Homo sapiens: one gene and its partners. The protein of the gene in region 3 purifies or fractionates together with the protein of the main gene of each other region. This does not show direct contact. Each region holds a gene or a part of one and is shown on either strand. Other genes may lie near its edges. The genes, in order: STAT5B, RHPN2 and TRMO.

Evidence for each region.
Region 1: the proteins of TRMO (region 3) and STAT5B purify together in Homo sapiens (affinity purification with mass spectrometry; 2 studies listed by BioGRID and IntAct, with this or other methods). This does not show direct contact.
Region 2: the proteins of TRMO (region 3) and RHPN2 purify together in Homo sapiens (affinity purification with mass spectrometry; 3 studies listed by BioGRID and IntAct, with this or other methods). This does not show direct contact.

Annotation. Positions count from the first base shown.
Region 1 is NC_000017.11:42,209,319-42,219,638, reverse strand, and holds part of STAT5B (signal transducer and activator of transcription 5B), read left to right. Parts: intron 1-175; coding exon 176-327; intron 328-760; coding exon 761-916; intron 917-1,308; coding exon 1,309-1,488; intron 1,489-2,174; coding exon 2,175-2,262; intron 2,263-2,356; coding exon 2,357-2,479; intron 2,480-3,532; coding exon 3,533-3,625; intron 3,626-5,036; coding exon of another isoform or gene 5,037-5,057; exon of another isoform or gene 5,058-5,107; intron 5,108-7,448; coding exon 7,449-7,655; intron 7,656-9,141; coding exon 9,142-9,236; intron 9,237-9,337; coding exon 9,338-9,468; intron 9,469-10,320. UniProt on the Homo sapiens protein: Carries out a dual function: signal transduction and activation of transcription. Mediates cellular responses to the cytokine KITLG/SCF and other growth factors. Binds to the GAS element and activates PRL-induced transcription.
Region 2 is NC_000019.10:33,003,743-33,014,062, forward strand, and holds part of RHPN2 (rhophilin-2), read right to left. Parts: intron 8,983-10,320; coding exon 8,905-8,982; intron 8,062-8,904; coding exon 7,937-8,061; intron 4,439-7,936; coding exon 4,272-4,438; intron 1-4,271. UniProt on the Homo sapiens protein: Binds specifically to GTP-Rho. May function in a Rho pathway to limit stress fiber formation and/or increase the turnover of F-actin structures in the absence of high levels of RhoA activity.
Region 3 is NC_000009.12:97,918,098-97,929,379, reverse strand, and holds the start of TRMO (tRNA (adenine(37)-N6)-methyltransferase), read left to right. Parts: upstream 1-6,879; 5' UTR 6,880-6,886; coding exon 6,887-6,962; intron 6,963-7,198; exon of another isoform or gene 7,199-7,573; intron 7,574-11,282. Other genes in the region: HEMGN (hemogen), read left to right, coding at 1,902-1,996. UniProt on the Homo sapiens protein: S-adenosyl-L-methionine-dependent methyltransferase responsible for the addition of the methyl group in the formation of N6-methyl-N6-threonylcarbamoyladenosine at position 37 (m(6)t(6)A37) of the tRNA anticodon loop of tRNA(Ser)(GCU).

The DNA of each region.
Region 1 (10,320 bases), on a different chromosome or scaffold from region 3:
GGACCAGCATGAGAGCAGAACCTGGGAGGGCAGGAGGCCTTTTTTCCTGGGGGCCTTGCGAGGCAGAGCAGCTTGGGGAGAGGGAACGGCCTGGGCCCTGCCCTGCCATTTCCCAGCGAGGCCCTGCGGTGTTCTCTGGGAGCCCAGAAGGGGCTGCTCTCCTCCCTTCCCTCAGGAGCTGGCCGAGAAGCACCAGAAGACCCTGCAGCTGCTGCGGAAGCAGCAGACCATCATCCTGGATGACGAGCTGATCCAGTGGAAGCGGCGGCAGCAGCTGGCCGGGAACGGCGGGCCCCCCGAGGGCAGCCTGGACGTGCTACAGTCCTGGTAATGGTGTGGGGCGGCCAGCGGGCAGGGCAGGAGGGGCTGGTGGGGATCCCGGCTGCTTCTGCGTCCTGTGCTGGCTCCTGCAGCAGGCCCCCTCCATCCTGGGACAGCTCTTGTTTCTCCAGGGAGCCTGGTTCCTCAATCAGACTTTGGCCCCCATCCTGTGCACCTCCCCCAGGAAGGGGGCTGCTGTCCTGGAGATGGGACAGGGTTCGGGTGTGTGGGGTGATGCTTGGGCTGTTTGGGCCTAGTCAGGGTCGCCCCTCCTGTGTACGTCTCTAATTCTGGGAGGCAGGGAGCTCTGCTCTTCCCATGGGTGGGAAGTGTGGCGAAAGCACAGAGCCTTCCTGGGGGAACGGGAGCTGTGTCTTGGGGCCTGGCGTCTGTGCGGAGGAGCCATTGTCCTCCTGTTGGCCTTGGGGCTCTCGTGCAGGTGTGAGAAGTTGGCCGAGATCATCTGGCAGAACCGGCAGCAGATCCGCAGGGCTGAGCACCTCTGCCAGCAGCTGCCCATCCCCGGCCCAGTGGAGGAGATGCTGGCCGAGGTCAACGCCACCATCACGGACATTATCTCAGCCCTGGTGACCAGGTGACTGCTGCCTGTTTGCCATGCCCAGGAGCTTGGGGCAGCTCCTGCCTGCGTGGGGGGAGCCGCAGGTGCCTTCCAGACCAGCAGATCCACTTCCTGCCTCTCATCCCTCCCAACTCCATCTCCAGTTGCTGTGGCCCTTGCCCAGTTTCTCCTGTGGACACTGCAAGAGATGCCCTTGGGCTGCAGCCCATGCCAGCTTCTGTGTTATCTCACTCCCCTCTCCATCCTCTCCCTGGACTCTCACGGCTTCCCCAGGAACAGAGGCTGTGCCCGAGCTCTTCACCTCCTGAGCCCCTCGGGAGGCAGCCCCACCCCCACCACAGAGGGACTGAGAGCCCTTTCCCCTGCACCAGCCCCTCATCATGCATCTGTCCCTGTGTCCCCTGCAGCACGTTCATCATTGAGAAGCAGCCTCCTCAGGTCCTGAAGACCCAGACCAAGTTTGCAGCCACTGTGCGCCTGCTGGTGGGCGGGAAGCTGAACGTGCACATGAACCCCCCCCAGGTGAAGGCCACCATCATCAGTGAGCAGCAGGCCAAGTCTCTGCTCAAGAACGAGAACACCCGCAAGTAATTGTGCAGCTTCCTCTCATTCCCTGCTACTTGTCTCATGTCCTGGCAACAGGAAAAAAAGAATTCTGCCTCCTGTGTCAGATCCCTGTTTGCCCTTCTGGCCTCTTCTGGGCATCAGCAAAGGAATATAAGGAAGTTCTTGGGCCTGGTGTGGTGGCTCACACCTGTAATCCAAGCACTTTAAGAGGCCGAGGTGGGCAGATCACCTGAGGTCAGGAGTTCAAGACCAGCCTGGCCAACATGGTGAAACCCTGTCTCTACTAAAAATACAAAAAATTAGCCGGGCGTGGTGGCAGGCACCTGTAATCCCAGCCACTAGAGAGCCTGAGGCAGGAGAATCCCTTGAACCTGGGAGGCAGAGATTGCAGTGAGCTGAGATTGCAGTGAGCTGAGATCACGCCACTGCACTCCAGCCTGGGCAACAAGAGCAAAACTCCGTCACAAAAAAAAAAAAAAAAGTTCTCTTAGGAACTGTTTTCTGTGAAGATAGTTTGATCTTGTTTCATTTTGTAGAGATACGTCCGAGAAGATTACATGTATGTGTTATGTAGCTAACATTTCCTCTAAATGACGTACATTTTTAGCAAACTTCTCTATTTCCTGCTACCCCAAATTATATTATTTACTCCGCATGTCCTGAGACCCTGGCATGGGTTTGGAGCTGGTCTCTCTCTGATTTGCAGTGATTACAGTGGCGAGATCTTGAACAACTGCTGCGTCATGGAGTACCACCAAGCCACAGGCACCCTTAGTGCCCACTTCAGGAATATGGTGAGGGTGGAAGAAGAGGAAGAATGAATTTTTCCCTGGTCTTTGAGGGGAACAACTTATATCTTACGTTTCATCTTATGTTTCTTCTTTGTAGTCCCTGAAACGAATTAAGAGGTCAGACCGTCGTGGGGCAGAGTCGGTGACAGAAGAAAAATTTACAATCCTGTTTGAATCCCAGTTCAGTGTTGGTGGAAATGAGCTGGTTTTTCAAGTCAAGGTAAAGCCTTCCCTCAGCTCTGCGTGTGCGTGTGCGTGTGTGTGTGTGGTGTACTTTATGTTACAAAATATTTTTTTTTTATCACATAGCATCTTCTTCTTTTTGACTGTTGGTAAACTGAAAATGGACTGACCTCACCCTGAGAACTGTTTCACTTAGGTTCTCTTAAGACATGAACAGAGGCCAAGCACAGTGGCTCATGCTTGTAATCCCAGCACTTTGGTAGGTTGAGGCAGTCAGGTCACTTGAGGTCAAGAGTTCAAGACCAGCCTGGCTAACACAGTGAAACCCCATCTCTACTAAAAAGTACAAAAATTAGCCAGGCGTGGTGGCACGTGCCTATAATCCCAGCTACTCAGGAGAATCACTTGAACCTGGGAGGCTGAGGTTGTAATGAACCGAGATTGTGCCACTGCACTCCAGCCTGGGTGAAAGAGTGAGACCCTGTCTCAAAAAAAAAAAAAAAAGACATGAACAAGCAAGGCCCAGTGCAGTGGCTCACATCTGTAATCCTAACACTTTGGGAGGCCAAGGCAGGAGGATTGCTTGAGTTCAGGAGTTCCAGACCAGCCTGGAGCTGGTTGTGAGACCCCGTCTCAACAACAACAACAAATTAAAAAATAAAAAATAAAACATGAACAAACAATAATGAACTGAACTAGCTGGAGAGGTAGACTACAAAATGGATATGAGAAACATTACTTGGGATGAATTTGAGTAAAGGTTGTGGTAAGTTTTAAATTTGTTATTTGTATTTTCTTCCCAGAAATATCTCCAATAGTCTTTTCTCTCTCCTGTTCTCCATGTAACTTTGAGAAACTTTATCCTTCAGAAATATCTAAGCAACATTGCTTGTAAAATATTTAAAATTTCTAAGATTGTGCCAGTATGAAAAGTCATATTATTCCTGGGGCCATTTAGATTCTGTGTCTGAGAGGAACATTAACTGAAACTTGGAAAATAAAAGTGTTGTTATAATAAGAAAAAAAAAAAAGAGAGAAGGAGAAGAACTTGAGGCTCGTGGGCGCTCAGCCTTCTCTTGTGTCTTTTTAGACCCTGTCCCTGCCAGTGGTGGTGATCGTTCATGGCAGCCAGGACAACAATGCGACGGCCACTGTTCTCTGGGACAATGCTTTTGCAGAGCCTGTGAGTGTATTCCTCGGGCATGTGGGTCCCAAAATCAATGCCGGTGTCATGAATCTCATTTATGTATTATCCTTTTAAAAAGCATAGGAAAAGGCCGGGTGCAGTGACTCACACTTGTAATCCCAGCACTTTGGGAGGCCGAGGCGGTTGGATCACCTGAGGTCAGGAGTTCGAGACCAGCCTGGCCAACATAGCAAAATCCTGTTTCTATTAAAAAATACCGAAAAATTAGCTGGGTGTGGTGGCACATGCCTGTAGTCCCAGCTACTTGGGAGGCTGAGGCACGACAATCACTTGAACCCGAGCGGCAGAGGTTGCAGTGAGCCGAGATCGCACCACTGCACTCCAGCCTGGGTGACAGAGTGAGACTCCATCTCAATAATAAAAAAAAAGCATAGGAAAAAAGACGCTGTTTTCTTTAGTGGGAGGCAGAATAGAAAGAATGTGGAAAGTGGAAAGAACATGGGCTTGACATCGGGCCAGGGTTTGAACTGAGACTCCACCATTTCCTCACTCCATGACCACATGGGCAGTTCACTTTACCTCTCTGAGCCTGAGTTTCCAGCAAGTGTCTGCAGCACAGGGATACTCTTGCTCTACAGCATTGTTAGGAAGATTAAATTAGATAACATAGAAAATGCTTGCCACACAGTCAGTACTCAGTAAATATTATTTTGAATCCTTGGGTGAAACTATGAATGGGATTTGGGACTCCTAGGTTCACTCCAGAGGTTAGATCTCTCCAGAGGCTTACTTTAGCATAGAAGTTGCTTCATACCCTCTTCCTTTCAATAAATGAAGATGCTGTTAAATGTCTTTTCCAAATTTTAGTTTCTGTGATTCATTCTAGGTCTCATGAAGAATGAGATACTTTGCCTCAAGGAAGATATAATTTGGTGGATTTATGCACCCAAACGCTATCTGAATCCCACTAGCATGCTGCTCGATGAGCATTTTAAAGATCTCATAGGCTGGGTGCGGTGGCTCATGCCTATAATCCCAGCACTCCAGGAGGCCAAGGCAGGCAGATCCCTTGAGCTCCAGACTAGCCTAGGCAGCATAGCAAAATCCTGTCTCTACAAAAAATACCAAAAAATTAGCCAGGCATGGTACACCAGCCTCTAGTCCCAGCTACTTGGGGGGGGCTGAGGCGGGAGGATCGCCTGAGCCCAGGAGGTCCAGGCTGCAGTGAGCCAAGATTGTGCCACTGTACTCCAGCCTGGGTGACAAAGCGACACCCTGTCTCAAAGAAAAAAATTTTTTTAGTAGGCAAAGGTCATTTGTTACATATTTCCAATAGAGATTAGTCCATAAAAGCATGATAAAAGGGTTATCATTTGGGACATAAGAGCATGTCCTTCTCTAAGTATATCCAACAAACCTTGATTATGTTTTGTTTTGTGGCTGTTAGAATATAGGATTTGACTGTTAGTTCAACAGCTCATTTACAAAACAGCATGGACAGCATGGGTTACCTTCCAGTTGTGTGTAAAGAAGGTGAAATGGAACCTTCTGGCTCACGTGGAGAGGCTTAACGTTTCCCAACACTCCTCTTTAGAGAAAAAGTATTTTACTGCAAAGGTGAGATTTTTAAGAGATTTACCATACTTCACTTACAAACTCTGAATCAGAAGCTCCTTTTTGAAACTGTCTGTCTGCCTCTTGTCCTGATAAGCCTCCTAGATAAGATTGCCACATCTCTTGTTTCCTTCCCTGCCTGTCCACAGATCTCACTCTCTGTGTACCTTTGGCATCTCCTGCACCATGTAATTACTCAAGTATCTTGTCTAAATAAATAAGCATTTTTAACATTCTCAGCTATGTTAATGACTACTTACATCTTATGCTATTTTTTTTTTTTTAATTTTTTTGAGACAGAGTCTTGCTCTGTCACCCAGGCTGGAGTACAGTGGCATTATCTCGGCTCACTGCAGCTTCTGCCTTCTGGATTCAAGCGATTCTCCTGCCTCAGCCTCCCGAGAAGCTGGGATTACAGGTGCATGCCACCACGCCCAATTAATTTTTTATATTTTTAGTAGAGACCAGGTCTCACCATGTTGGCCAGGCTGGTCTCGAATTCTTGACCTCAAGTGATCCACCCACCTCGGCCTCCCAAAGTGCTGGGATTATAGGCATGAGCCACTGCACCCAGCCGACCTTATGCTATGTTAAAAAAAAGACTTTCAGCTGGGCACGGTGGCTCACACCTGTAATCCCAGCACTTTGGGAGGCCGAGGTGGGTGGATCATTTGAGGTCAGGAATTCGAGACCAGCTTGGCCAACATGGTGAGACTCTCATCTCTACTAAAAATACAAAAATTAGCTGGGCGTGGTGGTGCGTGCCTATGATCCCAGCTACTCGGGAGGCTGAGGCAGGAGAATTGCTTGAACCTGGGAGGCAGAGGTTGTAGTGACCTGAGATGGTGCCACTGCACTCCAGCCTGGGCAACACAGTGAGACTCTGTCTCAAAAAAATAAAAAATAAAAAATAAATAATAAAGACTTGTGGCCAGGCACAGTGGTTTATGCCTGCAATCCCAGCACTTTGGGAGGCCAAGGCAAGCGGATCTCTTGAGCCCAGGAATTTGAGGCCAGCCTTGTCAACATAGCAAAACCCTGTCTCTACAAAAAACACACAAATTAGCCAGGCATGGTGGTGCACGCCTGTAGTCCCAGCTGTTTGGGAGGCTGAGGTAGGATAATTACTTGAGCTAAGGAGGCAGAAGTTGCAATGAGCCAAGATTGGGCCACTGTACTCCAGCCTGGATGACAGAGCGAGACCTTACCTAAAAAAAAAAATAATTGTGGAAATTTATTCTCCATATATATTTGCCTATGTGTCCTGTGGGTCAAATAACATAAGAACATTGCAGCATTGTTAGTAATAGCTAAAGATGAGGCTGTAACACTGATGCCCATCTATGGGGGTCTGGTGAAATTTCTTTATGTGCTGATGGGAGGTCTCCCAGATAGAGGATTAAGTGAAAAGAGGAAGATGCAGAACATGTGGATTTTGTGCTGTCATTTGTGAAGAAAAGGAAAAGGTATATGTCATTGCTGGCATGCATAGAATATCTTTGGTGGGATACACAAGAAACTGTGTTAGGTGCCTTTAAAGAAAAGAACTGGGTTGCTGGGAGACAGGGATAGGGAGTGACTTCACTGTGTAGCCGTCTGTGCTTTTTGAATTTTAAATCATGTGAAAATCACCTATTGAAAAAAGTGTTTGTAACAAAATAAAATGGAGTACTATGGCTGAACGGGTTGAAAAGCAGTTTATTAAAAGTTAATCTTCTAACCTATTTCTCAATAAAGCCATCCAACTCAAAATTTCCACTCTTCCATACCAAGTTGTTTTACTTTGAGCTAGAATTCTTGGCAGAAGGAGTCGAGGGCAATGATTCCACGTGTGTACACACATGCCGACACGTGTGCACACATACGCACACTCTCTCTGTTTGTACCTAGAGGACCAGTCTTTCAGATTTCTAAATTCCCAAGGTGTTTACAATCTAAGAGCCAGACCTTGGTTATGTTTTGGTTTGTGGCCGTTAGAACATAGGATTTGACTGTTAGTTCAGCAGCTCATTTACAAAACAGCATGGATAGCATGGGTTACCTTCTAGTTGTGTGTAAAGAAGGTGAAACGGAACCTTCTGAATTTCACAGAACCGTGTACCCCAGCAGAGTCTGAATTTATCCTCAGGCCCTGCAAGACAAATGTGTGTAACCACTCCCAGCCATCAGCGTTTTTCTTTTGTGGCTTGAGGGAATAAATCATGCAACTGTTTTCTCATCAGATTCTGGCCTCTCTCCCTCTCAGGGCAGGGTGCCATTTGCCGTGCCTGACAAAGTGCTGTGGCCACAGCTGTGTGAGGCGCTCAACATGAAATTCAAGGCCGAAGTGCAGAGCAACCGGGGCCTGACCAAGGAGAACCTCGTGTTCCTGGCGCAGAAACTGTTCAACAACAGCAGCAGCCACCTGGAGGACTACAGTGGCCTGTCTGTGTCCTGGTCCCAGTTCAACAGGGTGAGGAGCCCAGCTGCCAGCCGCTGTTAGATCAGTCCTTCCCAACCAGATGCTCTCAGGAGTCTCCCTGCCCTGGGCCCTTATTCTTCATGTCTCTAATAAAATGTACCGAAAGTAATAGAAGCTTCTGACTAGATGGACAACTTGAGAGTTACCCAGGTCACGTGTAGAAAATTACATCTTTGCATATTTTAAATAAGTTGACCTTTGTCTACAGTTAATGCATTTTCTTCCTTTGTAAAGGAAATAGAGCAAAGCAGATGTTAACATAGCTCATGAGAAGCAAAGCTTTTGAGGGGATGCGAACTCTGGGCCTCTCTCCCCTTTACTCTCTTATGTTCCCCATGTGTAATGCCAGATCAGGCTCCTATGGGACCCTCAACCCACAAAGAGGGATGCTGATGAAAGAAACTCCTCCTCTAGCATCTGCTAATTCAGACGTCACTTTGATTTTATTTTTATTCATTTTTTTTTTTTGAGACAGAGTTTCGCTCTTGTTGCCCAGGCTGGACTGCAATGGCACGATCTTGGCTCACCGCAACCGCCGCCTCCTGGTTTCAAGCGATTCTCCTGCCTCAGCCTCCCGAGTAGCTGGGATTACAGGCATGCGGCACCACGCCCCGCAATTTTGTATTTTTAGTGGAGACGGGGTTTCTCCATGTTGGTCAGGCTGGTCTCGAACTCCCGACCTCAGGTGATCTGCCCGCCTCGGCCTCCCAAAGTGCTGGGATTACAGGCGTGAGTCCACTGTGCCCACCCTATTTATTTTTGTTTATTTATTTATTTTTGAGATGGTGTCTCGCTCTGTCACAAGGAGTGCAGTGGTACATTCTGGGCTCACTGCAACCTCCGTCTCCCAGATTCAAGTGATTCTCCTGTCTCAGCCTCCTGAGTAGCCGGGATTACAGGCACCCGCCACCATGTCCAGCCAATTTTTGTATTTTTAGTAGAGACGGGGTTTCACCATGTTGGCCAGGATGGTCTCAAACTCCTGACCTCAAGTGATCTGCCTACCTCAGCCTCCCAAAGTGCTGGGATTACAGACGTGAGCCACCATGCCCGGCTATCACCTTGATTTGAATTTAATTTTTGTTTCTTTTCCTACACCCCCCACCCCCAAGGTGTTTTAAATGTTTAATTTGGAGCCTAACAACGTGCATTTCTCAGAAGCTCCCAGGTGACACTGATGCTTCTGGTCACAGACCACACATCGAAACTAGCAAGGGACGGGTCAGCCCAGTCCCAGGTGAAAGTGTCTGTAGCAGGAGCCCACTGGGTGCTGGTAACTGCAGTTTGGTATTTTCCCCTTCTTCCCTCTTTTCCTCTCCATGGGGCCATTAGGTAAAACTCAGGTAGGCGGGGATATTTGTATGCCTCTGACAAGGGTAGATGTTTGTTTCCCATTTAATTTTTCCAATTAAATATGTGTATAATATTCCAAGTGTTACTCTGGTGTTCTTATGTTCACTGTTGTATCTCCAACCAGGAGAATTTACCAGGACGGAATTACACTTTCTGGCAATGGTTTGACGGTGTGATGGAAGTGTTAAAAAAACATCTCAAGCCTCATTGGAATGATGGGTGAGAATCATTATTTCTTAAGGCGCCGACAGAGTCTGAAGGTCTTCTCTCTGGCATCGTAAGTCACACTCTGCTTCTGTCCTTTGTCCTTGGTGATCCAGGGCCATTTTGGGGTTTGTAAACAAGCAACAGGCCCATGACCTACTCATTAACAAGCCAGATGGGACCTTCCTCCTGAGATTCAGTGACTCAGAAATTGGCGGCATCACCATTGCTTGGAAGTTTGATTCTCGTGAGTGCCCCTCCCTTCTTATGTCCAAAGTTAGCTGCTTTCGTTACAAAATTATTTTAACAAATAATTTAGTGGGTACTTACTATTTGTTGAGGTCAGTACTAATTATGGGAAACATAAATGTATAGCCATGACATACTCATAATAAGGCAGCCTATGAAAAATACTATTATGGGAAACACAATTGCTAATTTGGTTATACATGAAAGTATATGGCAGCATGGTTACACATGAACATTTAACCATGACATGGCTACCTATGATACAAGAGTCCGTGCAGAATCTCAGTTGCTTCCCTCTTAAAATGTTTGCCTTATTGTACTACTCTGCATAAAGCTTATTTCAGTGAAGAATTTGATGATTTGGAGTTCTTACAGTAGTAAAAATATTCCTTTATCCTAATTAACATATGGATATTGCCATCAACCATTTCTACCCAAGATGTTAGTTCTTTTCTTTTTTTGAAACAGGGTCTCACTCTTTTGCCCGGGCTGGAGTGCAGCGGCACAAACATGGCTCACTGCAGCCTTGACCTCCTGGCCTCAAGCAGTCCTCCTCCCTTAGCCTCCCGATTAGCTGGGACCACAGACGTGCACCACCACACCCATCTAATTTTTAAATTTTTTGTATGTTGCCCAGGCTGGTCTCGAACTCCTGGGCTCAAACAATCCCCCACTTTGGCTTCCCAAAGTATTGGGATTACGGGCTTGAGCCACTGCACCAGGGCATCAGGAAAGTTAGTTCTCTCCTCTGACCCTCACAATAAGGGTAGCTTGCTGGTTCATTTTCTGTGAATTAAAGTTTTTAATAACTTTTGGCTGGGTGCGGTGGCTCATGCCTGTAATCCCAGCA
Region 2 (10,320 bases), on a different chromosome or scaffold from region 3:
TTCCATTTAGATAAGGTACCCGGAATAGTCAAATTCACAGAAATAGAAAGGAGAATAGAGGTTAGCTGGGGCTGGAAAAGCGGGCAATGGGAAGTTATTGTTTAACTGAGTACAGAGCTTTGCTTTGGATGATGAAAAAGTTCCGGAGATAGCTGGGCACAGGGGCTGCTGCCTGTAATCCCAGCTATAAAGGAGGCTGAGGTGGGAGGGTTGCTTGACATTAAGAGTTCAAGACCAGCCTGGGCAACGTACTGAGACCCCTGTCTCTTAAAAAATATATACTTTTTAAAAATGTATTTATTTTATTTATTTTTGAGACAAGATCACACTCTGTTGCCCAGACTGGAGTGCGGTGGCACAATCATGGCTCACTGCAGCCTCAAACTCCTGGGCTCAAGCGGTCCTCCCACCTCAGTCTCCTGAAGAGCTGGGACTACAGCCATGTGCCACCCTACACCAAGCTAATTTTAAAATTTTTTGTACAGATGGGGTGTCCCTATGTTGCTCAGACTGGTCTCCACTCTTGGATTCAAGTGATCCTCCTGACTCAGCCTCCCAAAGTGCTGAGATTACAGGTGTGAGCCACCTTGCCTAACCAACAAAAAAAGTTTTTAACTTCTGGAGATGTTTAGTGGTAATGGCTGCACAACACTATGAATGTACAAATGCACTTAATGCCATTGAACTGCACACTTAAAAATGGTTAAAATGTGCTTCTGGTTGGCAGGATAATTTTAAAATTTTTAAAATTTAAGATAATAATTAAAATGGTAATTTTATGTTCTGTGTTATTTTACTATAATAAAAAAACTGGTTAAAATAGTACATTTTAAGTTATATATGTATATTTTAACACTATTTATTTATTTATTTATAAATAAACACCCAGGCTGGAGTGCAGTGGTGTGATTTCAGTTCACTGCAACCTCTGCCTCCCAGGTTCAAGCGATCCTCCTGCCTCAGCCTCCCAAGTAGCAGGGATTACAGGTGTCCACCACCACACCCAGCTAATTTTTGTATTTTTAGTACAGACGGGGTTTCACCATGTTGGCCAGGCTGGTCTCGAACTCCTGACCTCAGGTGATCTGCCTGCCTCGGCCACTGAAAGTGCTGGGATAACAGGCGTGAGCCACCCCACCCAGCCTTTTAACCCAATTTTTAAAAATTGGATTACCTTCCAAAACACATCTCTATTGAGTAAAGAAACCAGCCTGCTCCCCACAACTCCTGTGTCACCTGGGACAAAATTCCATCACGACAGGTATGGAGATGCAAGCAGACGGCAGGCAGAAGGACTAAGGGGCTCACAGGGGACCAGGCTCACACATAAGATCTGAGTCATTCAGCAGTCCAGGGCTTTTCCCCTGGACCTCAAGAAAGATCTATTCTGGCCAGGCGTGGTGGCTCATGCCTCTAATCCCAGCACTTTGGGAGGCCGAGGTGGGCGGATCACCTGAGGTCAGGAGTTCAAGACCAGCCTGGCCAACATGGCAAAAGCCCATCTCTACCAAAAATACAAAATTAGCCAGGTGTGGTGGTGCACGCCTATAATCCCAGCTACTCCGGAGGCTGAGGCAGGAGAATCACTTGAACCCGGGAAGCAGAGGCTGCAGTGAGCCGAGATCTCGCCACTGCACTCCAGCCTGGGCGACAGAGTGAGATTCTGTCTCAAAAAAAAAAAAAAAAAAAAAAAAATCTCAATCCGTCTGCTCCAATGGAAATTTTCATGCTGCAGCCTTCCTCTGACTTCTTTGTAGTTTAGAAAATTAACTGTCCAAAGCGCTAACTGACAATCAATCTGGAACTGAAATAGAATCTCTCATATGAATCCCATCCAACTGGTTCCTCTGGTTTTGTTGCTGAGCAAAAAAAAAAAAAAAAAAGCCCTGCCCTGCGGAGGGATGGCACCTGCTGTTTTGAGCTGCGAGCTCCATGGGGGTTCCCTCACACTCCCCACTGTTCTCCTACTTGCTTCATTTCGTCTATAGTTTGTCTCCATTGATATAATCTCAGAGACAGGACACAGAGTGCCTGCCTAAGATTCCTCAGAAAGATGAGTCCAGAAAAAAGATTTACAGCAAAAGAAATCAACTCATACTTGGAATCTTAGCATATCGCTTCATCCCGATAGACCAATCTTTTATTTTTTTAATTAATTAATTATTTTTTGGGACAGGGTCTTGCTCTGTCGCCCAAGCTGGAGTGCAATGGCGCGATCTTGGCTTACCACAACCTCGGCTGATCCTTCTGTCTCAGCCTCCCAAGTAGCTGAGACTACAGGCATGCACCACCAGGCCCAGCTAACTTTTGTACTTTTTGTAGAGATGGAGTTTCGCCTTGTTGCCCAGACTGATCTCAAATTCCTGGGCTCCAGCAATCCACCCACCTCAGCCTCCTAAAGTGCTGGGATTACAGGCATGAGCCACCATGCCCAGCCTATTTCATTAATTTAAAAAAAAAAAATTCTTTTTAGGGATGGAGTCTTACTCTGTCACCCAGGCTAGAGTACAGTGGTGCAATCATAGCTCACTGCAGCCTCAAACTCCTGGGCTTAAGTGATCTTCCCGTCTTAGCCACTGGAGTAGCTGGAACTACGGGCATACACCACCACGCCTGGCTAATTTTTAAATATTTTGTAGAGATGGGGTCCTCCTGTGTGGCCCAGGCTGGTAGGACCAATCATTATAACATCAGAAATTTCACGATGAGTCAAAGTGGCAAAGCTATGGTTCTTCACAAGCTTGCAGGGCAAAGTGATATCAAACAATGATCCACACGGGTGGAAGGGGATCACACCCCAAAGCAGAATGTCGATGATCAGCCCAGAAGGCAACACGCTATAGAGCTAGCGTGGGGAACACACTGTGGTCTACACTGTGCCCTGCTCTTGCATCCATCCCCACGTGGAGTCTGACCCAGACACAGCCCTGCTATGGGGGAGCAAGGCAGAACCCGCAGGCACAGGTGAGCCAAGCCAGGCTCACCCACAGCGCTGGGTCTGTTGACCCCAGTCCTCTATAGGTGTAAGCACTAGGCTGCTTTTCTCCTCAACACCGCACCTCATTCTCATACTAAGATTACCTGAGGTCAGGAGTTTGAGACCAGCCTGGCCAACATGGCAAAACCTCATCTCTACTAAAAATACAAAAATTAGCCAGGCATGGTGGCAGGCGCCTGTAATCCCAGCTACTTGGGAGGCTGAGGCAGAAGAATTACTTGAACCCAGTAGGCAGACGTCGTAGTGAGCAGAGATTGTGCCACTGCACTCCAGCCTGGGTGACAAGAGCAAGACTCTATCTCAAAATAAACAAATAAATAAAATAAAATAACAAAAGACAGTTCCCAGAAGAAGGGAACTGAGCTATGAGACATCCTTTGAATGCATCACTTGACAAAGGGTTGAGAACACCCACCTCATGCTGGAGAAGTTGGCAGAATGCAGGTGATATAAAGGCATGGAGGGGCAGGGTGCGGTGGCTCATGCCTGTAATCCCAGCATTCTGGGAGGCTGAGGCAGGCGGAACACCTGAGGTCAGGAGTTCGAGACCAGCCTGGCCAGCATGGCGAAACCCCATTTCTACTAAAAATACAAAAATTAGCCAGGTGTGGTGGCGGGTGCCTGTAATCCCAGCTACTCAGGAGGCTGAGGCAGGAGAATTGCTTGAAACCAGGAGGTGGAGGTTGCAGTGAGCCGAGACCATGCCACTGCGCTCCAGCCTGTGCAACAAGAGCAAAACTCCATCTCATAAATAAATAAATAAATAAATAAATAAATAAATAAATAAAGGCACGGAGAGTAATACGCACTGATAAGGTACACCTAATACAAGAAAAAGAAGCCTACAGTTTCACTATTTGGGAAAAGTTATTCTGCTCTTCATGACAGTGTTGAAAGAAACAGTTATGCACTGCCATCCCAGGGGCCACTTGTCTGGAAAAGATCGTCAGCCACAGGATTCACCATGTACATCAGCCATCCCAGACTGAGGTCTGAACCACCGAGCAAGTTTTTTTTTTTTTTTTTGAGATGCAGTCTGGCCTCGATCTCCTGACCTTGTGATCCACCCGCTTTGGCCTCCCGAAGTGCTGGGATTACAGGCGTGAGCCACCGCGCCCGGCCGGAGCAAGTTTCTTAATGGGAAGTTACACCAGAGCTGGAGACTGGTCTGGCCCTTGCGAGGGATGACCTGTAGATTCTCTTCAGTGGGGGGTCCCCTGGTGCCACCGGGTGGGGCCAAGGCTCCGTCTGGTCAGCCCTGGAGGAGACATACCTGCGGCTCTCTGAAAGGCATCTATGGCACTCTCCAGCCCAGCCTGCGTCTGCCGATCACACCGGGTCCCAATCTGGGTGTAGAGGGCCCCAGTGTTGAACAGGACACTGGCCTTCTCCAGCAGCAGGTTCTGCTGGCTGACCGGAACCCCGGTGAGAGAGTCATACCTATGTGAAAGAAATGCATTCCGAGAATACAGATTACTTGGCTAGTTAATGCTACAAGTGGAAAAAATTCTTTTTTTTTTTTTTTTTAAGAGTCAATATCTCACTCTGTTGCCCAGGCTGGAGTGCAGTGGTGTGATCATAGCTTACTGCAGCCTTCAACTTTAGGGCTCAGTTGATCCTCCCACCTCAGCCTCATGAGAATAGCTGGCATTACTGGTGCATGCCACCATACCTGCCTTTTTTTTTTTTTTTAATTTTTGTAGAGATGGGGTCTATGTTACCCAAACTGCTGTCAAACTCCTGGGTTGGCTGGGTGCGGTGGCTCACGCCTGTAATGCCAGCACTTTGGGAGGCCGAGGCAGGTGGATCACCTGAGGTCAGGAGTTTGAGACCAGCGTGGCCAACATGGTGAAACCCAGTCTCCACCAAAAATACAAAAATTAGCCAGGCATGGTGGCGGGCGCCTGTAATCTCAGCTACTCAGGAGGCTGAGGCGGAAGAATCACTTGAACCCGAGAGGCGGAGGTTGCAGTGAGCTGAGATCGCACCACTGTGCTCCAGCCTGGGCGACAACAACAACAACAAACTCATTTCTTCAGTAAAAGTCAAGAATGCATGTGCACTGAGGCTTTTGTTTCCAAGCAAGATGACAGGACTAATCACACTGACCGCCACAGCCACACACAAAAATATCTGACGGGGTAACTGGATAAACACACCATGGGACATCCAGACAATGGAATATTACTCAGCACTAAAAATGGAGAAATGAACCAGCAAGCCATGAAAAGATGCAGAGGAAACATTACTAAGTGAAAGAGCCAACCTGAACATTGCTACCTACTGTATACGCTGTGTGATTCCAACATTCTGAAAAGCCAAAACCCTGGAGACAGAAGAAAGATCAGGGGTTGCCAGGACTTAGGGGGAGGGAGGGAGGGGGAGCACAAAGGATTTTTCCAGTAGTGAAACTCTTCTGTATGACACTGCAAAGGTGGATCACTGTCATTCTATGTTGGCCAAAAGCCACAGAATACACAAGTGCAAGAATGAACCCTAATGGAAACTATGGACTCTGGGTGATAATGATGTGTCAGGTAAGTTCTTCAATTATAAAAAAAAAAAATGGGCTGGGAGCGGTGGCTCATGCCAGTAATCCCAGCACTTTGGGAGGCCAAGGCGGTATGGCTTCTCCTAAATGAAATATGGCAATTACTAACCCCTCATAATTCTTTCTGAAATCTAAAAACTCAGGATTTGTTTTAATTTGTTTTACTTTTTATTTTTTCAGACAAAGTCTCACTCTGTTGCCTAGGCTGGAGTGCGGTGGCATGATCATGACTCACTGCAGCCTCAACCTCCTGGGCTTAAGAGATCCTCCCATCTGAGCCTCCCAAGTAGGTGGGACTACAGGCATGCACCACCCATGACCGGCAAATTTTCTCTAATTGTTTTGTAGAGATAGGGTCTCACTGTGTTGCCTAGACTGGTCTCAAGCTCCTGGGCTCAAGCGATCCACCCACCTTGGCCTCCCAACCTGCTGGGATTACAGATATGAGCCACCACACCCAGCCTAGGACTTGTTTTATTTTTATTTTTTTTATTTTTTATTTTTTGAGACAGAGTTTTGCTCTTTCGCCCAGGCTAGACTGCAGTGGCGCCATCTCAGCTCACTGCAGCCTCCACTTCCCGGATTCAAGTAATTCTCCTGCCTCAACCTCCCAAGTAGCTGGGATTACAGGCACCCACCACCATGCCCAGCTAATTTTTGTATTTTTAGTAGAGACAGGGTTTCGCCGTGTTGGTCAGGATGGTCTTGAACTCCTGACCTCAGGTGATCCACCCACCTCGGCCTCCCAAAATGCTAGGATTACAGGCGTGAGCCACCGCACCTGGCCCTAGGACTTGTTTTAAAGTTTACTCATGAACCAGGGGGTGTGCAGACAGCTTCTCCCTAATTCATGACTAAGGAGAAACCACCTTTCGCCTTTTCGGCCATGCAGACAGCCTGGTGCATTGTTAGGAAAAGTCATCCCCCTTTCCTTTGCTTTCCATGAGGAAGGCATTAGTAGCCACCCATCAGCTGTAGAAACATTGAATTCTGATATGCCCCTGATCTTCTAGGATGTGTTCTCCTTTCACTGACACTCCTAACGACACTCAGAGAAGGGGTGCAGCATCTCCAAAGTACTTTTTTTTAGGTTGTTTTTTTTTTTTTTTGACACAGAGTCTCACTCTGTCACCCAGGCTGGAGTGCAGTGGTGTGATCTTGGCTCATTGCAACCTCTGCCTCCCGGGTTCAGGCGATTCTCCTGTCTCAGCCTCCCAAGTAGCTGCGACTACAAGGCACGCGCAACTATGCCTTGCTAATTTTTGTACTTTTTACTAGAAGCAGGGTTTCACCATATTGGACAGGCTGGTCTCGAACTCCTGACCTCGTGATCTGCCTGCCTTGGCCTCCCAAAGTGCTGGGATTACAGGTGTGAACCACCACGCCCAGCCTTTTTTTTTCTTGTTTGAAAAAGGGTTTCACTCCTATCATCCAGGCTGGAGTACGGTGGTGTGATCTCGGTTCACTGCAACCTCCGCCTCCCGGGCTCAAGTGATTCTCCTGCCTCAGCCTCACAAGTAGCTGGGACTAACAGGTGCATACCATCATACCCAGCAAATTTTTGTATTGTTTGTAGATATGGGGTTTTGCCACATTGTCCAGGCTGGTCTCAAACTCCTGGGCTCAAGTGATCTGCCTGCCTCGGCCTCCCAAAGTGTTGGCATTACAGGTGTGAGCCACTGTACCCGGCCTCCCAAGTATTTAAACTATACTAACCTTTGAAAATACCAATTGGGTCTACGGCCATACCACCCTGACGTGCCTGATCTTGTCTGAAAATACCAATTGTGGAGAAGAATCAAATGCTCTACTTCCTTTTTTTAAATCTGATCTAAGCTGAGTGAGTAGCTCATGCCTATAGTCCCAGCTATTCAGGAGGCTGAAGCAGAAATATCACCTGAGCCTAGGAATTCAAGACTAGCCTGGGCAACACAGTGAGACCCCATTTCAAAAGAAACCTGATCTATTTCTGTTTGGTGCTTTTGCCTCACTGGATAAGACCTGATTTTCTCTCTCTCTCTCACTCACACATACACATGCATGCCCCTGTCCAATCTGAGATAAGAATCTCGCTTCTGGCTAATTCCACTTCAGAGCCCCCGTGCTTCCCCAGTGATACAACGAGCAAGAAAAATGTCTCTTCTCCTTGGCTCGCTTGTTCTGAGAAGCAAGAGGCCACAGTCTGTTGGAGCCATCTCCCCTCGGATCACCTTCATAAATAAATACCAATGTATTGACATCTTTTGAGACTTCCCCAGATAAATGCAAGATAGGAAAGGGGGCTGAGGTGCACAGGGGCACCCGCAGAGGGGCGTCTGTGATGCTGAGGCTCCAAAATTGTGGCTGCCATAACACGTGAAGCGCCAGCGCAGACCTCAAGCACCTACCAGGTGAACAGGAGTCCCATCTGCCGTGTGGGCGGGAAGAATCGACTCTCGACAAAGCCCAGCTGGATGAAGTATGTCATCAGCAGTTCCACCCCGGCCTCATCCCGGCTAGGCGTCCGACAAGCCTGCAAGGAAAAGAACCCAAGAGGGCATGAGCAGAGGAGGACACAGCTGATGGCCCTTCCCAGAAGGTGCCCTGCACATACCAGCAGGTGCCTGTAACTATTTCTGCAGTATGATGACCTCGCTACTGGCATCGTAAACTCTGGGAGGGGTGGAAAGAACCTGGGAGGAAGTCAGAAATCCTGGAATCCAGTCCCAGCCCTGAGGCAGGGCTCTCCCCTTCTATGGTTTTCCTTCTTTTTTTTTTTTTTTTTTTGAGACAGAGTCTTGCTGTCACCCACCCAAGCTGGAGTGCAGTGGTGCGATCTTGGCTCACTGTAACTTCCACCTACCAGGTTCAAGTGATTCTCCTGCCTCAGCCTCCCGAGTAGCTGGGATTACAGGCGTGTAGCACCATGCCTGGCTTGTTTTTGTATTTTTAGTAGAAACAGGGTTTTGCCATGTTGGCCAGTCTGGTCTCAAACTTCTGACCTCAGGTGTTCCACCCGCTTCAGCCTCCCAAAGTGCTGGAATTACCAGCATGCACCACCACGCCCAGCTAATTTTTGTATTTTTAGTAGAGACAGGGTTTCACCATGTTGGCCAGGATGGTCTGGAACTCCTGACCTCAGGTGATCCGCCCACCTCCACACCCCAAAGTGCTGGGATTACACAGGCATGAACCACCGCGCCTGGCCTCCTTCTACAGTTTTCTTATGCAGCAAGTGGAATGGATGATTCCAGCACCCCCCAACCATCACCTCTATCCACCCGCGATTCTGTTAAGACCACAAGCGTGCAATAATGGGGTTCCCTGAAGACTCGGAAAAGCCACCCTCCCCTCTCTGCTGCACACAAAAACTTACTTGTCTCAGATCCATAAGATCTGCAATTTCATCTTCATATAAATAGCCATCTTCACTGTAATGTTCCAGGATAAAATCCTTAAAGAAAAATGAGGTCAGATGTTATAAAGTGTGGCTGAAAACCATATGTGTGCATAATAGTAATATGTCAATTGTGAACCCATTTTTAAAAAGGCAGAATAAAGAAAAACTTATAGTGATTTTCAAAGTGGGGGAATTTATTTTCTTAATTTATGTAGTTTTTTTTAATACGGAGTCTCTCTTTGTAGCCCAGGCTGGAGTGCAGTGGCACAATCTCGGCTCACTGCAACCTCTGCCTCCCGGGTTCACGCAATTCTCCTTCCTCAGCCTCTCAAGGAGCTGGGATTACAGGCGCCCACCACAATGTCTGGCTAATTGTTGTATTTTTGGTAGAGACAGAGTTTCACCATGTTGGTCAGGCTGGTCTCAAACTTCTGACCTCAGGTGATCCCCCCACCTCGCCCTCCCAAAGTGCTGGGATTACAGATGTCAGCCACCGTGCCCGGCCATAGTTTTTTTTTAAAAAAACAAAAACAAAAAACAAAAAACAGAGTTTCACTCCTGTTGCCCAGGCTAGAGTGCAATCTTGCGATCTCGGCTCACTGCAACCTCCACCTCCCAGGCTCAAGTGATTCTCGTGCCTCAGCCTCCCAAGTAGCTGGGATTACAGGCATGTGCCACCATGCGCAGCTAATTTTTGTATTTTTAGTAGAGATGGGGTTTCACCACATTGCCCAGGCTGGTCTCAAACTCCTGGGCTCAAGCAATCCATCTGCCTCAGCCTCCCAAAGTGCTGGGATTACAGGTGTGAGCCACTGCAACACACGCCTATGTTTTTAAATGTTGTGCTGCTTCAGTAAAAGTGAGAGTTGAAGTAAATTTTTTGCTTAAAAATGTCTTTGTGTCTGCGCATCGTGGCTCACGTCTGTAATCCCAGCACTTTGTGAAGACCAGGCAGGTAAATCACTTGAGCCCAGGAGTTCGAGACCAGTCTATGGCCTATACATTCAACTATACTGCAAACACTGCAGCTATTCAGGGGCTCAGACTTGCAATTCTGGGCCTCCCTCAGGACCCGGACAAGTTTCCCAGCACAGATCCTGAGGGTAGGACTGTCAATAACAGTCTCCAGATACAGGTTTCCTTTGCCAAGAAGACCCTTAACCATGTTATAAAGGCATTTTATTTTATTTTACTTTATTTTATTTTATTTTATTTTATCTTTGAGGCAGGGTCTCACTTTGTTGCCTCGGCTGGAGTGCAGTGGTGCGATCGCGGCTCACTGCAGCCTCAACTTCTCCAGGCTGAAGCAATCCTCCTACTTCAGCCTCCCAAGTAGCTGGGACCACAGGCACGTGCCACAAGCTAATTTCATTTTTGTGTTTTTTAATAGAG
Region 3 (11,282 bases):
TAGTTATCCCCAGGAAACTGATTTCTAAAGAAATCCCTTTAGTAGTTTACTTGCTCTTTATCCTAAAAGATGAGTGCAACAAAAACATGGTGCTAGTTGGTTTCCAAGTAATACCAGTTTTGAAGAACTACTTTAAAGAAATACATTGCAGCAAAAGCAGGCATGTGAAGCAGTACGTGCACTGACAGGAGTACCCTGCTGGAGAAGCAGCTCTAACCAACACAGCGTCCTGATTCCTAACTGCTTCATTCTAAACCCAGCAAGGTCGATATGGTCAATTAATTAACGCTTATTTTATTTTTGGCTTTGTTTGACCAAATAAATGGGAATATCTATTTTTCCTGATTATAAAAGTAGTAAGTGTTCATTATAATAAAGCAATATGTAAGTGAATATCAAGTAAAGTAAAAGTCCCCTATAATACCATCTTCTATCTTCAGTTCCCAATGTTAAGGTTGTTTTGTTTCAACAAATGAGACAGTACCCATCCTATCCTGTAACTTGTTTTTGTTTTCATTTACAATATGTATTGCAGCCATCTTTATGATGTCTTTTGTAACAACTGCATAGTACTGTGCTATATGTATATTCAACCAGTCTCTATAAGGATGAACACTTAGGTTACTGCCAAGTTTTACTATTACAACAATGTTCAATGAACATCATTGGGAATAACATTTATTTAGTTAACATTTATCTGGTACTTTTCTATGTGCCAGACACCATATTAAATATTTTATGTGGTTTATTTTATTCAATGTTAAAAGCTCTACTGGATAAATAATACTCCCATTCTAAATATAAGGAAATGGAGGCACTGGAGGCTGAAGTTTGTCTGATTATTTCCTTTGAATCAACCCCTAGAAATCAAATTGTTGGGCCAAACGGTACCCAAATTTAAAGTTTGAATATACAGTCAGTCAGACTAGCCTCCAGAAATGTGGTAGCAATTCACACGAGACAGGTGCCTTTTCCCCACACCCTTGTCAGCACTGTACATTATGACATTTTAAAAATCCTTGTCTGTCTGCTAGGTTAAAAAATACACTTGATCGGCCGGGCGCGGTGGCTCACGCCTGTAATCCCAGCACGTTGGGAGGCCGAGGTGGGCGGATCACGAGGTCAGGAGATCGAGACCATTCTGGCTAACACGATGAAACCCCGTCTCTACTAAAATTACAAAAAATTAGCCGGGCGCGGTGGCGGGCGCCTGTAGTCCCAGCTACTCGGGAGGCTGAAGCAGGAGAATGGCGTGAACCCGGGAGGCGGAGCTTGCAGTGAGCAGAGATCGCGCCACTGCACTCCAGCCTGGGCGACAGAGCGAGACTCCGGCTCAAAAAAAAAAAAAAAAAAATACACTTGATCTTAGCCAAAAGGCTGAGAAGTGATAGGTTAAAAAATAAAACACACCTAATGGTCTTAATCACCCCCTTTTATAATTAATGTTACTAGACATCTTTTCAGGATTATTATAAATATAATTTTTTAAGAATTGCCTGTTTGAATCCTTATCCCATTCAACATTTTTTATTTCTTTTTTCCGATTAAAAAACCTCTTTAAATAATAGTTTTTACTATGTATATGTTGCAAATATTTTTCCAGTTGTCTTTGATTTGGTTTAACTTTGTTTATAGTGGTTTTCACCATATATAATTTTACTTTTTAGGTATTCGAACTTGCTAGTCTTTTCCTTTATGGTTTCTGGTCTCTGTGTTCTGCTTAGCATCCTAAGATTACTAAAAACACTATTATTTCTATAACTTTATGGTATTTAAAAATTTACCCCATCTACGGTTTGTTGTTGTGTATGTTGTAAAGCAGTTTTTCTTCCTCCAAATGGAGAGTCAATTGTCCCAATACAATTTATTGAATCTATTTTTTATTTTATTTGATTTTACAGAAATGAAAGAAAAACCCAAAGAAGAGCCAGGAATACCAGCAATTCTGAATGAGAGTCATCCAGAAAATGATGTCTATAGTTATGTTTTGTTTTAACAATGCTCAACCATAAAGTTGTGGTCCAATGGAACATACAGCTTAATAGTTTATGCGTGATTTTCTCAAAATATTGTAAAACTTTTGACAATGCTCATTAATATTATTTTTTCTATTTGTAGACCATATCTGAAAGAAATAACATTTTTTAAGGCTCTACCACATAGACAATATCATGCTAGAATGTGTGTGTGTGTGTGTGTGTGTGTGTGTGTATGTATGTATAGGTCGGGGAGAGGATAGTGGTGGGAACAGACAAATAAGGAAGCGGGGAGGACTGGATAATTGGTTTTCCCCCCTAAGAACATTTATTTACGTCTTAAGAGCAGATAAGTGACTAAGACTGAACACATACATTTTGTGGAGTATATAGTTTTCTTGTAAATGCTGTTCAATTATTAATGTAACAGTAGCATCAAAATTTTATTCAGGCTTTAGTTGACTCTTTTGGTCAGTTTTAACAATTCTCCTTAAAAGATATTTTGGAGTGATGAATGTAGTTTACTTTTGTATTTGAATTTTGATTTTCTATTTTTATTTTTTAAATATTGTATTTGTGCACAATGTACATTAAATCATTATTACATGCTTAACTGTGTGGATACCATCATGTTAAGAATTGCGGAGGTTAGAAGACCTATCTAACACCCCACGGTGGGGTTAATTTGGTTTCATGGGGAAATAAAACAGAAAACAAATAATCACAAAAGAAAATAGTAAGGGCTGGTGCCATTTGAATGGTAGATACAAACAGAGAATGCTCACTTTTTGCTGGAGTGACCTGAAAAAATTACACAGGCATGAAGCCTTGAAAGACGGAAAGTATTTGCATAGATGAGGATAGCAGCATTACTGTATGTGACAAAGAGAAGGGTGAGTTCAAAACATGTTCAAGAGAACTGCAGGCAAACTATGGTTAATGTAGAGTCCATATGAAATAGTAGTAGGCTTGCATGCTGAAAAGCTCATATTACTAGAGCATAGAATATTTTGCTTACCTAACCAAGAAATATATCACTTGTTAAAAATGGGGAATGAAGTCAGATTTTTGAACAATGGAATGGCAATTTCACTATTTTAGGAATATGGTAAATATGGTGATAATGGTAAAGATTAACTGAAAACGACAAGAGACCGGGGCAGGAATAGAAGCTGTTCTGGATGGGAAGATGTCTGAAAATCTACCCTGGTATTTTTTGTTTTCACTTTTCCTTCTGTTATTACAGAGGACTAAGGATATTTTTGCAAATAAAGTTTCATTCAGCAAGAACACACTTGCACAAGCTTTCCATATAGACACTGTGCTAGGTACTAGCTATATCAAAGAACAAGACAGGGTCACAGTCCCTCAGGCATTCATGGTATAATGAACATGAGAGAGCAGTGGTTCTTTCAACCCTTCTGGTACATTAGACTCACCTGGGAAGGTTTCAAAAATACATATATGTCCAGACTTCTCCCCCAGGGATTCAGATTCCCCCATCTAGCTGATGTACAGGCATAGGTATATTTATTTTTTAATTGTTTTATGCTTCAAATAATAGTTTTTGGAGGAATAATTTTAGAATTACAGAAAAGTTGTCATGATAGTACAAAAGTTACTATATACCTTTCGCCCAGTTTACACCAATGTTAACGTCTTACATAACCATGGGCCATTTGTCAAAACTAAGAAATCAGGATAGTTACACTACCATTAACTACAGACATTATTCCGTTTTCATGAATTTTTCCACTAATGTGCTTTGTCTGCTTCAGGGTCCAATCCAGGATATAGAATTGCATTTAGGATGTTTTTATTTTAAAAGCTCTCCTGACAATCCTAAAGTGGAGGTAGGGTTGAGAACCAATAGTACAGTGGGATGTTACAATATTGTTTCCCTCCTATCTGCCTACCCCCTTTTGTGTGTACATTAAATTTTTTACCATCAGGATGTATTCATTGCACAATTATTCATACCCCTATTATATTTATTACACAACATACTGAGGGCAGGGCAGCACAACCACATAATAGTTTCGTCTCTTTTTTTTTTTTTTTTTTTTGAGACGGAGTCTCACTCTGTCGCCCAGGCTGGAGTGCAGTGGCACCATCTCGGCTCACTGCAAGCTCCGCCTCCTGGGTTCACGACATTCTCCTGCCTCAGCCTCCCGACTAGCTGGGACTACAGGCGCCCGCCACCACGCTTGGCTATTTTTTTTTTTTTTTTGTATTTTTAGTAGACGGGGTTTCACCATGTTAGCCAGGATGGTCTCAATCTCCTGACCTCGTGATCCTCCTCGGCCTCCCAAAGTGCTGGGATTACAGGAGTGAGCCACCGCGCCCGGCCACAACCATATAATAGTTTCTTACCTCTCAATGACACTTCAACATTTATACTTTCACATAAACTATTTTATTTGATCTGTACAAAAGTATGTGAAATAGGCCAGGCGGTGATTATCACTCTCACTTAAAGATGAGGGAATAACATAGAGGGAAGGTACTCACCCAAAGTCACATCTGACTTCCTCAGTGCTTTTTTTTCTTCTTTGGAATGTGCTTCTGTCTCAATTTCACCTGCCAGAGTGGGCCAAAATTAGAGGAAAAAAAAGAGTAAACTGAAGTCTCAAGTTCTAACAGCGTTGCATTAAGATGGACCTTAAGAGATTTGCATACGTACAGTGCACAGGAGCACAAAGATGAGATGGGGAAGGAGAGGGAAAGAGGAATGCAGTACATTAGAGGAAGCAGAATTTCTCTCTCCACCTCTCGGGACCCTTTCTGCTTGCCCTCTTACATCACTCCCTGCATTCACACACCACTTCTGCTTTCTCACCATTCTTGTTTAAACATCACTGTGCATCTAAAATTCTTCTGGCGTTCTTCTTGGCTTAGAACCTTTAGGTGACAGAATTAAAGTTTTGCAAGAATCCTTCTAGCTTGACTTTGTGCTGCCCTCCTCTCATGTTAGGTTAGAAACCCATGAACCATATGATATTATAGCCAAAATGATGTGTGGGACGGTTCAAAGCTTTAGTTGATTCTCAAAGGGGTCCTTCACCCAAATGAGAGGTTAAGAATCACTCTACTGAGAAGTGTTTCTCAAAGTAGTACAAGCTGAAGACTACATAATTATTTAGGTCATTTCTTTAAGGCAGATTTCTAGGTCTTACATCTGGAGGAGAGGTTAAGTCTTATAAACTGCAAATAATCACATATAATTCCAGACAAGATAATAAGAACTTCAAATCATAGACTAAAAAATGTGCTGCATATTTAAGTTCCCGTTTTCAGTCAAGAGAAATTTTACCTATAAAAGAAGTAGCAATCTATTTCCCTAGTATATTCAAATCAGCTTTGCATTTCAGTACTTGTCACACTTGGTAATTACATATTTTTTTGTGTGATTAACAACGTCTACCATGCCCTCCAGGAGGGCAAATATCTCTTTAAATCTAGTCTTTCCACAGATAAAGCGGGACTATCATTTTTAGCAACACCACCATCTAGTGGCAAGCGCAGTAATTCTGGCCCAGTTTTATAAACACACACATACACACACACGCGCGCGCGCTATATATATATAAAACAATGATTTTCAAACTTGTTTCTCCAGCTGCACAGAGCTGTCCCTCCTAAAAAAAATGGCAGCCTTTTCCAAGTTGTCCTGTAAAAATGACCTGCCAAAAGACACTATATGAATTTGATCAGTTTTATCTTATTTTTTAAACCACAATCTTTAATTATTTGGCTCCTCCTGCTGGTTATTTTCTACCAGAAATCAATGACAAATGGACAGACATGGAAACATCTTTTCATGGTTGTTAGACTTTTCAATCTGTGACTCATATGCTTTTGAATATTTTATACTGCAGATGTTAACAGATAAAAAGATAAAAGATTTTAAAATTTCTCCCAGAAAGAGAATTATATACAGAGAAACTTACTAAAGGTGAGAGACAGCATTACAAGTGGGTAAAAGATAGGCTATCATTGCAAGGACAACTGGTCATTGCATGGGATTAAATGATTCTTGTTAGCTCTTAGCTTCTCAGAGCTGTCCAGAAACGACAATAATCCCCACAATGCACATGGCATGTTGACTCTTATAATTCCATTCTCACTTCAGTTCCGGTAAGGTGTGGAGCACAAGAAACAGTTCCCACTCCTTAACCCCTAGCACATAGTAGGGCTCCTTTATAACATCCACCACACTTGAAATAAGACTTATTTGGGGTTGTTTCTGACAAAGCATAACTTATATTATGGAAAAATTTCCCACCACCCAGGGATAATTTTTTTTTTTTTTTTTTTTTTTTTTTTTTTTTTTTTTTTGATACGAGGTCTCGCTCTGTCACCCAGGCTGGAGTGCAGTGGCGCGATCACGGTTCACTGCAGCCTCAAACTCCTGGGCTCAAGCGATCCTCCCGCCTCAATCTCCTGGGTAGCTGGGACCACAGGTGCCTGAGAATTCTTAACATTTCTTAACGTCCAGTCCTTCCGCTCTGTGTTAATTACATATACACATCCCTTAAAAATTAGGGTCATACTGGACGTATAGGTTACTTAATAATGTTTCGAGAGAGACATAGTTGCGAGTTCTTCATGGAGGTGTGTTCCCTCTCAAAAAGCGCGGGAAGCCGGAGTCGCATTCTACCCTAGGAGGGCGGGCAACTGTAGCAGCTGTGTGTAAGATAAACGAGATTGGGGTCCCGGAGGGGCACACGCCCGGGATAGGGTTCGAAGCCCCATGGAGAACTCAAAGCTTCCCTCAACGCCACCCTGCGCGCGCACATTCTCCTGGGTTCGCGGGACCTCGCCGGCGAGGCCACTGCGCATGCGTCAGGCATGGAGAGCGGAAGCGGAAGGTTGAATGCGTCGGGTGGGCACCTCAGCAACCAGTAGCCATGCGCGGCTTGGAGGAGTCGGGGCCTCGGCCTACAGCGACCCCGTGCGGCTGCGTTAAGCCGGCTCTGGAGACAGGTAACTTCCAACACCGGCGGTGCCACACTCTGGAGAGGTTTAGGCCCAGGCAGCGGACTTCGTTGCCGAGAGGGGTGTAAAACGCACGATCTGGAACTGACGTGCGTCATTCTTTTACCTACGGCGAAGGCACGGGTCACGTGCTGCGGAGACCACGTGATGTGCTTTGGCGAGCGGGATGACGTCATCTGGCTTGTTCCGCTTTGTTATAAGACTTGTACTGTCTGCGTAGTCTTGGCTCAGTAGCTGGAGCAGCTACGTGCAGCGTAGGGGCTTTTCTCTTAGGGGTTTCCTTGCCATAGCGTATGGGAGATGGTGTTAGGCGGGTTAGGAATTAATAAATGCCATAGAGAGGCATCCTGCGCTGTAGGAATGAGGACAGAGAAGGGGGAAAGTTTCTGGGGGAGAAAATAGTTTTAAATTGGGCCTAGAAAGACAAGGCATGAATTTGTTTCTCTTTACTCACACGTTTTCATAGAGGAATATATTAGCTTTAGAAACTGGAAAGCAAATGGAAGAAAATTAAAATAACCTGCCAGAGAAAGCCATTGTCAATATCTTGGTGTCTACCTTCCACGCTTGTTTCTTTGCATACACACTTGGAAAGTGAGGTACTATACGACCTGTTTAGTAACGTTAAAATAATTTAAAAAAAAATCTTAACAGGGCAGTTAATGTTAATTATAACACTTTGGGCCGGGCGCAGCGGCTCATGCCTGTAATCCCAGCACTTTGGGAGGCCGAGGTGGGCGGATCACGAGGTCAGGAGATCGAGACCATCCTGGCTAACACGGTGAAACCTCGTCTCTACTAAAAAATACAAAAAAATCAGCCGGGCGTGGTGGTGGGCTCCTGTAGTCCCAGCTACTCGGGAGGCTGAGGCAGGAGAATGGCATGAACCCGGGAGGCGGGCTTGCAGTGAGCCGAGATCGCGCCACTGCACTCCGGCCTGGGCGACAGAGCGAGACTCCGTCTCAAAAAAAAAAAAAAAAAATTAACACTTTGTTTTGTTATTATTAATTTTTGTAGAGGCAAGCTCTCACCGTGTTGCCCAGGCTGGTCTCAAACTCCTGGGCTTAAGCAATCCACCTGCCTTAGCCTCCCAAAGTTTTGGGATTACAGGCATGAGCCACTGCAACCAGCCTAACGCTTTGTTTTAGATATGTGCTCTAATTTAACCAGCTTCCTGTTACTGAGCATTTAAGTTATTGCCAGTTTGCATTGTTCTAAAAGAAAGCTCTTGAAGCCGAAATGTTTGTGTACATTCTAAAGTTTGAACTTTGTTAAATTTCTTGGAAGTGCTATTACCTGGCCAAATGTGCTTATTTAAAAAAAATTGTTGCACACTGCCGATTACAGGTCTCATATTTTGACAGGAAGGAAAACGCAGAAGCCAGGGCTCAGAAGTCTACACAGTATAGGTTTGGGGAGCTAGAAGTCTAAAGTGTTGGATGGAACAGGGAGGTGGGAACCTTTGGATTCTGATTGTGAAGAAACTTGAGTACCAGGCTAAGAAATACAAAGTCTGTTAACAGTGGAGAATATGAAAAGTTTAAAGTTAAAGAGTTAGCATAACACAAGAAACTCTAGGAGTGTTGAGGATTCGTCTAGAGTATTTTGAGAAGGGGAAGAACTTGCAGTGGGGACAGAAAGCCTAAGAAGGGTAATTTAATAGTACAGGTGGAAATGAAAAGGACCTGAACTTATTTTCAGAGCAAGACGTGTAGACAATCCTGTACACAAAAAACCCCACATTGATTGCTTGCTGGCTTTTTACTTATTACACAGTTAATACAGTTGTAATGTTTAAATGAGGAAAAAGCCTGAGCAGGGACTTTAAAAAGCACTCCTTGCTGGGCACCTTCTATTTTATTGGATGCTTTCCTATTTTATTAGTACTTTTACAGCTTTCCAAAGTAGGTAGTATCCCTTGTTTTATAGATGAGAAAACGGATTCAGAGAGAGAAGCTAGTTTTTCCCATGGTCACACAGCTAGTGTAGTGGCCCTGTGTTGTTTTTATCCTTTCTCCATTCTGAAACCAGTCCTAATTCTCTCATGCTCCTTTGAGGAACCACTTCTCCCCATTTCCATGAGGTTCTTGTGCTGGTTTTTGTCATACCTGTGCTTATTTATCTCTATCCCTGCAAAGGCACCTAGCTAGAATTGTTGATTTACTTGTCTTTCTCTGTCAATGTACTGGAAACCCTTGAGGACGAGAACTGGTTCATATTTGTACCCCAAGTCCTTAGCACAGTGCTTACCAAAATGGTAGGTGTTTACTGTTCTTTTGGGTTTTTGTTGTTGTCGTTTTGAGATAGGCAAGAAGAAGAAGACCAGAATTCCCCTTGGCAAACGGTGTCAGGTCTCTGCTTCAAATAGCATTTATATTTCATAGCATTATCCCCAGGAGGGCACAGAGAATGTATAAATATGTCCCAGAAGAGTTCAGACGTACTAGGATATGGATATTTGGTATTTTGAGAGTGGTCCCAAACATTTTAGAGTAGCAGAGTTAGAAGAACTCTTTCAAAGTAGCTCTTGAGTATACTTCCAGTTCATTGCTAATCCAGTGTTGTCTTGCTTATGTTCTTAAGGAGATGCACAAAGAGGATAGAAGTAAATCTAATTAGAGGATAGAAGTAAATCTAATTGGCAGCCACTTATATTTATCATATCATATGTGTAATCTGTGAAAAACAGGCATAGACTGATTTAGTGAAGTGATAAATCAGCTATAATATAAATTCCTAGGCCCCAAATCAAAGAGTCAAGGGCAGAAGTCTTTGATTACTTTACTGCTGACAGGACATTTCCCATGATATTGAAGCATGGTGTGATAGTCTCCTCAACTATTAAATTCCACTGTAGTAAGAGTTCTTGGTTTGTATCTTTTCTCCAAACTTAACACAATGTCTGGCAATTGTAGACACTTGGAAAATAGTGTTTCTCTCTTTCTTTTCTTTTCTTTCCTTTCTTTCCCTTTCCTCCCTTTCCTTTCTTTTCTTTCCTTTTTCTTTTCTCTTTTCTTTTCTTTTCTTTCTTTCTTTTTTTTTTCTTCTCTTTGTGGAGCAGAGCTAACTCATGGGCAGTGTGCCCAGAGTATCAGCCAGAAAATGTTTCTTGAACAAATGAAAAGAAGACACAGGGATTTTGTGGCTGGGCTAGGGGTCTTTTTTGGCCATTTATCTTCCAGACATAAAGAAGATATGCCAGGTCGTTTGGCCTCAGTTTCTTCATTTTTAAGATGTCTACTATATCTGTTCCATAGAAGCATGGATGAGGATTAAAAAGAAAAAACAAAAAACTAAAAACAATGCCTGTAAACATACTTGAACAAAAATTAAAGTTGTCAAAAACATACAGAGTATGTATGGATCTTAGCCTCATAATATTGAGAGAGAAAAAGCAAGTCTGAGAAGACAACTTACAGTTTGGTGCCAGTTTTTATAGATCTTAAAGACAAAAATCAATGAAATACTGTTTAGGCATGCATGTACATGTAACAAAATCATTCTCTAAAAGGAAGTGAATGATAAAGATCAAATTCAGGCTTCTGTTTATCTCAGAGGGAAAAGAAGGGTGTGAGGTAAGAGAAAAACAACCTAAAAAGAACAAGTCGTTAGTAACGCTCTAGTTTTTGGGATGGGTGGTGTATACACGGGGTTTCATCATATTATGCCGTATAACTTACATGTATGTTGCATATGATATTTATATATATCAAATAAAGTAGCTTCTAGAAGTGAAGAGTAATGAAAGATACTGTGAGGGACAGCCCCAGACCTATAGTCTTACTGCTTATGCTGGTAGGGTAGATTTAAGGAAGCAGGAAATAAAGTCTGAAGTGTCTTTATATCATCTCTCAGAAATTGATAACGCTGTCATGAAATGTGAGAATAATAAAAAAGTTATCAATAAATTCAAAGTGGTAGCCATGGAAACCTTGGACTTTATATTGATAGTGTCTGGCCATTTTTTTTCTTTTGAAATATGTTATTACTTAAAAAAATTGTGATTTTTTTTTTTTTTTGAGATGGAGTCTCGCTCACCTAGGTTGGAGTGCAGTGGCGTGATCTTGGCTCACTGCAACCTCTGCCTCCCAGGGTCAAGTGCTTCTCCTGACTCAGTTTCCTGAGTAGCTGGGACTCCAGGCATGCACCACCATGCCTGGCTAATTATTTTTTTTTTTTGTACTTCTAGTAGAGATGGGGTTTCACCATGTTGGCCAGGCTGGTCTCGAACTCCTGACCTCAGGTGATCTGCCCACCTCAGCCTCCCAAAGTGTTGGGATTACAGGCGTGAGCCACCGCGCCTGGCCT